Linked DNA regions of Homo sapiens. The protein of the gene in region 1 binds, or shares a complex with, the protein of each later gene. Each region holds a gene or a part of one and is shown on either strand. Other genes may lie near its edges. The genes, in order: GABBR2 and KCTD16. A codon is read from its position in the direction of its gene.

Region 1 (3,915 bases):
AGAATGAACCTGTCTAGGAATGTCAGAAAAGTCACTGGGAGCCTCCCTCCAGCCCGGATGTTCTGGGTAGAGGGCTGTGCTGGAAGCTTCTCTGGGCCACACCCCCGGCTGTAGGGAGGGCTGAAGGTCAGAGTCATACTCATACCTCACGGATCAGGGCGGCTTCACTGTTTGGTACAAAGCTTTCCTGGACAAGATCAAGTTTCAATCCTCAGAGTGACCTTGTGAGGTAGGCAGGACAGGTGTTTTAGTTCAACCCCAAGTTACAGAGGGGAAACTGAGGCTCAGAGAGACACTAGTGACCTGATCAAAGTCACGTAGGGAGTGGGCAGGGGACTGAGGACTTGAACCCAGGTCTGTCTGACTCCCAGGCCAGTGCTCTTAGGGGCTCAATTTAAAGGGAGGAATGATCTTATGAATGAGAATCAATCTGCTGACTGATCACCCCAGTGATCCCAAGGGGAGAGCTCACTGGCTTGTCTGGATGGAAGGCTGCCTTCTGGAAGCCAAGGGAAGCCCTCAGCCAGCAACTCTCTCCCCTATGTCTACGGGGATGTCTTTTAGCAGAGTGCCTCCAATTCACTTTGGTCAGAAACAAAGTTAGTGGGAAAAAAAAAAAAAAAATCCCAGCCAGCCCTTGGGCCCTGATGAGAGAGGTTAAAGTGCACAATCTTTCTTTATCGTGTTTGCTGGGAACAGACATTCCATGATTAGCTCGGGTGGTCCCCCTGGTTACTGGGAGCATCCGATAGGAACACAAGGACATGGCCAACGTGGTGGGTGCATGACAGACTGTCGGTGAATGCTGCAGAGCGTGTCTGCAGTGACGTGCCCTAAATCCCCACGGTCCCAGGAATGGGTGTTATTGTGTTAACGTGTGGCATTTACCAGAGTAACAAACATCTCATTGGGTGACACAGGTCCCATGTGGAGCATGTAAGTCAGCCTGCTCCAGTGCCGCAGCCCTCGGCCTGCCTGCTCCAGGGCTGTGCCTGTCTGCGCTCCTGCAGACTCCCTGTTCCAGGAAGGCTGGGGTCAGCTGGCCTGGCAGCTGGGGGCCTGGTGGCCCTTCCCACCTCCTCCCCCAGAGTGGAGAAGGGCTAGCCTGAGGGGTCACAGCCAGTGATGTGTGTGCAGAGGCAGTTTCTTCAGAAGCTCCTTGCCTCTTCCCAAGGCTGCTCGAGCCACTCCGTGACTTCCAGCTGGAGTTCTAGTGCCTCTCTCCTTGTCTAGTTTTTTTGTTTTTTTTTTTTTTTTTTTTTTTTTGCAAGTTTGATATCCCAGCGCCTCCTTGTTTGCAGATGTTAAGGAAGACGTCCCATTTCCGTTCCTCTTCTTTGTGAAGAAATAAGGACTTCACAAATAAGGCTCGAGGTCAGGTGCCAAGTCTCCCCCTGCCCCGTCCTGTCCACCTGAGTGCCATCCGAGTGGTCCTGAGAGGCCAGCCATGGTGCCCAGCTTCTCCGCAGCCAGAGCCGACAGTGTTTCTGCAGCAGACCCCTCTGCCCAGTGTGGTTCTGTCACGGGGGAGGCCCCGGGCCCAGGCCTCCCACCCTTACAGGCCCGAGACCATGACTCGGAAGGAGGGTGGCACATGTCTGTGGCGGGGGCTGGCGGTGGGGCTGACGCAGGGGCTGACACAGCTGGCGTCCACGCCTCCGATGGATGGGAGGTAGGCGTGGTGGAGGATGGGGAGCTGGAGGGACAGCCGACGCTGGATGCTGAAGAGAAGGAGAGGGAGGAGTGTTAGTGAAGGGTAGCTGGGCGCTTACCAGAAAGTTCCTTGGACTTGCTTTGGCTAAAAAAGCTGATGACAGGAGCATATTTTTCTCTGAATCCAAGATCTGTCCATCCAATCATCTAACCATTCAGCAATCCAGCAGGTATTTAATGAGGGCCCATATGTACCAGCTACTGCCCTGGGAATGACCAGGGAGACTTGAATAAACAAGGGAGATGAATTTTCTCGAGCTTTGGGCCAGGATTTGGTGGTTATTATAAATACCCTAGCAGAAAAGATGCTCCTTGACTTACGATGGGGTTACATTCCCATAAACCCATTGTAAGTTGAAAATATCGTAAGTTGAAAAATGCATTTAATCCACCTAACCTACCAAATATCCTAGCTGAGCCTCGCCTACCTTAAATGTGCTCAGAACACTTACAGTTGGGCCATATCATCTAACACAAGGCCTATTTTATAAAAAAGTGTTAAATATCTCATGCAATTTACTGAATACTGTACTGAATGTGTATCACTTTCACACCATTGTAAATTTGAAAAATGGTAAGTTGGGGACTGTCTGTATTACTAAGGACAAAGCTTTGCCTTTCTATCAGGGCTTTGCTGCAAACCAGATAGTTCGCATTCTCTACTCTTGCAAACCTCCACAGGGCTTTCAGTTTCATCCCTGAAAGACTTCTCGCCTGCTCCATCCTTCCTCTCTCCCGTCTGCCTCTGCTTTGCCCAGGACCGCATCTCTTCTTGCTGGGCCAATTCCCACAGGCTCTTCCAGCTTCTTTGGTAACTAGTGTTATCTTTCCAACACTAGGAAGCCAAGGAAGGGAAAAAAAGGGACACTGATGTGATATTTGGGGCCCCCTAAGTTCCATCTTTGGATCAGAATTTTCCAGGTGAATCTTCCATCCTTTCCACCTGTAAGCCCTGCCCTCTGGCAGCCAGTTTCCCTGGAAACCCTGCTCCTGGGTGCTCTTCTGCTGTTTCCCTGTCTGGAAGACTCTTTCTCTGCTTCCTGACATGATGAACTGTGTCTCCTTCAAGATCCAGTTTAAATATCACCTTGTTTGTGCTCACTCTCTGCTAGGAGAACCCTTCCTCTGCTAAGCAGAACCCTAGGTAAATACTCAGAAATGAAGCCAGAAAAAGCTGGAGGCAAGATGGAGCTGGGTGTGGGTTAGCACGTGATGGAGGAGCAGCAAGGGAAAAGGGAGCTGCCCTCTGACTCCCTTCTCATTGCCACACCCTTCTGGTCTTAATGACTGTCATGTCACTTTGTTGAAAAGGCTGCTTGCGGCAAATGTGCCCAGGTGACTGCTCCTCTGCTCGGCTCAGCTGCATTCTTGCACAGTTCTCCATGGGTGCAACTTTCACACCGCATTCCTTGAGAGAAGGGACTGAGTTCTTATGCCTTCTTGTGTTCCCAGTGCCTGGCCACTCACGTGCAAAAAAGCGAAAAACAAAAACCCCAGAGCTTAACAGACACCCAATAGGCAAAAGAAATACTGCTATTCCCATTATAAAGAAGAGGGAAGAGTACAGAGTTCAGGTAACTTCCCCATGGAAACAAAACCAGAACTGGGGAAGCTGGAATTCTTGCTGCTTCTGTTCAACCACATTGTTTTGTGGTGGAGGCGAATCAACTCATGGGGGCAGCCTTATCCCAACTGGGTGTGCCCTTGGGGTTCATTTAGGTCACTGGTGGGTTCTGAGATAGATGGGTACAGACGAAGTGCTGCCCACACTTTCCAGAAAGATTCCTCCCAAGAGACACCTCACAGGTGTGCATGGAACTACAGTGTTGGAGATCTCATTCTGAAGTTAAAGTTGGACCTGTATAATGTCAGCTGAAGTCTGTGTCTTAAGGCAAGATCATGCTGGCAAGAAGTCCAGGACAAAAAGGGAAGAATAAACTGTGACCTGGGAAAAGGGTGTCCTGTCCAAGCACCCAGGGCAGGGCTATCTGCCTAGGCAAGGTGGGTCCTGTGGTTGTCAGAGCATTCTTCTGTCTGTTAGGATCCTGTTCACCTTTCATTCATTCAACAAATGCTTGTCAAGAACCTATTCACTGGCAGAACCTGTGTTCGGTGCAGGGGACACATGAAGGACTCATAACTTACTCTCAAGGTGCTTACACTCTACTGGAGGCAACTGCTAGGCAAACTGCTGACAAATTC
Region 2 (3,915 bases), on another chromosome or scaffold:
GCATCTTAGCATAAGTAAGTTTATGAGGTCTGTTTCCTCCCTGATAGCGAAGGCTGTCAGCATGAAAGCTATCTCTGCTTGAGGGCAGAGAAAACTTAAGGATGTGTTAGGAGTGAGAATGTAGAGAGTGATCACATTATTTCAAAATTAAAATAGTCCTTTTGAGAATATACCCTTCAATATTTGGCTGTGCATGTGAAAGCAGGAAACAGAGGCGAAAACATATTTTATCAATTTCACAATTTACCTAACATACGTCTTGATTTGCTATATGCTTGAATATTACAAAGAACAGGATGGAGCATTCTTCCTTGCTCTTCCTCTAAGAGAAATCTGTTGCCGTATGCTGTTCAGCCTTCAGTCCGGGAGTGCCATCCCACAGTGTTTCAGCGGAGAGCTGCCAAGAGAGAATAATAACACTAGCGGTGTTATTTGCTGACACGAAGGCTAGGAATACACTTACAGCCTAGACTTGGCTTCTTGCCTCTTGTTAAGGCACCAAACAGCCGGGCTTACCGACAACTTCCCTGAGACATTCGCTTACTCTAGCACTATTTAAATCTCTTTGTAGAGTGTATTGCTTTATTTCCTTCAAGTCTTTTATCTTTTTAATCTCACCTCTCATTCGTTTTCATCCCTGAGACTAAAGAAACAAGAAGGAGTACAGATCTGGGGATGTTAACCTGAGGTCTATGAACCCCAACATGAATGGGCTTCAGGCCAATCTTGAACCAAACCCCTGATCTCTCAGAAGGTGAGGGAGGCCTAGACCATCTTGCTTTTCTGAGGTTCCATTTAGATTAAAAAGTAGATATGCCCAAATAGAGTTAGCAAAGCAAGTGTTTATTTTTAACTGCTTACTATAATAAACAAACTGTTTTAGCACACAACAATTAACAATATGATGCAATATAATTGTGCAAAACAGGATATTTACAGTGTTTATGAAAAATACCAATTCAAAATGTTTCAGGTGGTATGATCAAATCATGGGTTGCAAGATTAAGGTTGTCTGGTGAATGTTTTCCATTTTTCAATTCTCAGAGTGTGTCTCTGTGAATGTATGTGTAATCTCACTTCAAAAAGAAGTTTCATAGTCAAAATTTGAGGAATTCTGCTTATGTGAATCATCAACTACATGGCCCCCGCACCTGTTCCTCTTTTTACTCAGCCTTTCCTGAGAGGTTCTGCCTTGACAGTGAATGCAAACTTTTATGCTTGTGGATTCATTTCCTAGGTTTTATTAGATTCTCTAAGCAGTCCATTTTCCAAAAAAGGTTAAGAATCTACTTGTCTCAAAAGTAACCTAACCTATAAAACCCAGACCAATGAACAGAACTCCTCATTTTAAAAATTCAGAATATTCTTCTTTTATATTATAAAATCTTTTAACTCTGCAATTTAAAGTAATATTAATACTCTTTTTAAGAGTATTAATATTAATATTAATTCTTGGTGTGCTTTTTAAAAACATGTTTAGTAATCTTGAAATTTGTTGTTTCAAATTTCAAGAAAATGTCTTGCAATTTGTTGTTTCAAAAAAAATCTTGTTTCTTAAACTTGCCGCCTCTCTATTCCTATTCAAGAATATCTAAGGTTAAAATGAGGATGGTTATCCTGAAGAGTCAGTGGTCTAAAGCCCATCCTGTTACTCTGGAATCGTGTGACCCTGAGGAAGTGCTGAACCTCTCTGTTCCTCAGTTCTGCATCTCTAAGAAGAGATAGTTAATTTTCATTCCTCAAGTCCGTTTTAGCTCTAAAAGATTATAATTTTTCTTACTCTGTTTCTCCACCTACTGCCATACTGTCCCTGCAGTGTTTTCATACCTGAGCTCCAAAGCTATCGTCATGACGTTTTGACCTACTCTCTTAGAAATAAAACATTTGCTTACTTTACAACCAAAACCAGTACTTAATAGGTCTGAATTCAGATTTATTTTGTCTTTGACCTGATGTCAACGAAATATTTATTTTGTTGTCATGGTGAGCAGTGCATGCCAAGTAAACTTAGATCACTATAAAAACTTAAAAATAAAAGAAAATCTAAATGTTTTGGCCCTATTAAGTTGCCAGATACAGAGCTGCACTGATAGCTTAGGGCACTAGATGGCGATATAAGTGCATCACATAACAAACATCTTGCTTGGTCCAGCATTAAAATCCTAATGATTGAGGCCAGAACAGGTTAATGCATTAGTTAACGAAACAAAGTCAAATATAATCAGGTGTAGGAATGTTAGCTAACGCTCTGAATATGTTCAGTAACCCAATGCTTATTGAAAGAAAAGATTGTTAAAGTAGAAACTAATTTATCCTACTGTTGAGCGTATCTTCAAGCTAATTTTTTGGGCAAGAGTTGGCAATAAACACGTTTCTCATAAAATGTATATAATTCCTAAGTTCACCTCCATTTTTGTTTTTCACTTTTTAAAAATAGCAATTGTTTGGGATGGCGTGTGCCTCACATATATTATTCATTGACCAAGCACTATATTCTTATCAGGGATGTGAGCCCTAAGACACTGGTGTTTTAAAGGGGAAATGGCCGACTTACTGTAAGCTGTTGGCTGGGCCATTATTGACTGTCAGGCTCAACTGGAAGCACTTTGTTAGTGGATTAGGTTGCCCTGGAAATGCCTTCCTGAAACTCTAATGATGCACTTAAGGGAGCCCTCTGGAACAGGAGTAAAATGTCTTTTAGCAGCAGTGCCTTCCACCAGAGTCCTCTTGGGATGACTTGGGAGGGGCTGGGGGCACGTCCAAAGAGACGCGCAGTAAGGAAACAACCCCAGAAAAAGGTTGCAGGTATCAATTTCTTACAGGTGAGCTAAGATAATGACTTATGGATGTAAACTGTGGGCTTTCTGTGGGTGCCGGTGCTTCACGTCTTCATTTTGAAAGAGCATCATTAATTTCAGAGAGAGTGTTTATGTATCTACCTATTTACATATATATTCATATTTATTTATTTGCTAGGGGTTGTGGTGGCAGGCGGATGAAATAGAAAAGGAAAAAAAGGGAGAATTTGAGTGAATATGGTTTAAATCAAAGGATTAAAAAAAACACTGTGTAGTTTGAACACTGGGGTCATTTGGTGTGCGTGTCTGTGTTTTAAAACAAGCATTAGAGGGATATTTGCCCTTCAGCAGGAAGGAATTCCGTGAACGAGGAGGGGGGAGGGGGGAAGATCTGTAGATTTTTCAAATAAAAAGTCAGTTGTGTTTATCTCACAACTTACCTCTTGGGTAGGGGGCAGGGATTTGCTGTGGGATGGTGATGGAGGTAAAGACAAGGAAGAAGGAAAAGGCCCTTGGAAACTCCAGACTCCAGGACAGGACAGGGAGGGAAGTGGCTGCGCAGCACTGCGTCCCCGCCCCAAGCCCCGCGCGCCTGGCAATCGCGTGCCCACCGCCGGAGCGCGGCGTCCCCGTGCAGTCCTGGCAACCTGTCACCGAGGAGGACGTGACTCGGAGCTGCCTCCGCTTTCTCCAAGCCATATTCCTTTAAGATGATGTAATAGTCATTTCCCTGGATGGTTTCTTGCCTGCACTGCTGAAACAACAGCATCCGAACTGCACTGGGAACTGTGGAACCACCCAGCTCCGCCGCCAGAGAAGCCGGAGCCCCGGGCCCCCCGCCGGCATCTCTGCGCTGCGTTGGCCTCTGGCTCGCACCGGCTCCCACCTGGCTGGGAACATGGGAGTCCGTTTGCCCTTGCCGGCAGGTGGGGTGGCTACCTGGGACCCTAGCAGGGCACATCTCTCCATCTTTCTGCTTCTGGGCTTTCTGAAAAGCTTCTAAGTCCTGGTACCTCTTGCAACTCTCTTCTAAGGATCCTTTCCAAAGATTTCTTTTTCCATTTTTCTTTTCCCCTGGGGAAGCTTTGGTTGAATATTTTCTCTGCTTTACTTCTTC

Evidence for each region.
Region 2: the proteins of GABBR2 (region 1) and KCTD16 are in contact, whole or in part, in a crystal structure (PDB 6M8R), measured with the Homo sapiens proteins. Residues at the interface, in NP_005449.5 of Homo sapiens: Ile882, Asn883, Ile888 (codon at 1,720), Gln889 (codon at 1,717), Arg891 (codon at 1,711), Leu892 (codon at 1,708), Ser893 (codon at 1,705), Leu894 (codon at 1,702), Gln895 (codon at 1,699), Leu896 (codon at 1,696), Pro897 (codon at 1,693), Ile898 (codon at 1,690), Leu899 (codon at 1,687); in NP_001357415.1 of Homo sapiens: Asn30, Gly32, Gly33, Gln34, Val35, Tyr36, Asp64, Leu65, Ala66, Lys67, Asp68, Ser69, Arg72, Phe74, Gly79, Phe80, Arg83.

What each region holds. Positions count from the first base shown.
Region 1 is NC_000009.12:98,289,029-98,292,943, forward strand, and holds part of GABBR2 (gamma-aminobutyric acid type B receptor subunit 2 precursor), read right to left. Parts: intron 1,722-3,915; coding exon 1,556-1,721; 3' UTR 1-1,555. UniProt on the Homo sapiens protein: Component of a heterodimeric G-protein coupled receptor for GABA, formed by GABBR1 and GABBR2. Within the heterodimeric GABA receptor, only GABBR1 seems to bind agonists, while GABBR2 mediates coupling to G proteins.
Region 2 is NC_000005.10:144,201,826-144,205,740, forward strand, and holds part of KCTD16 (BTB/POZ domain-containing protein KCTD16), read left to right. Parts: intron 1-3,565; exon of another isoform or gene 3,566-3,915. UniProt on the Homo sapiens protein: Auxiliary subunit of GABA-B receptors that determine the pharmacology and kinetics of the receptor response. Increases agonist potency and markedly alter the G-protein signaling of the receptors by accelerating onset and promoting desensitization.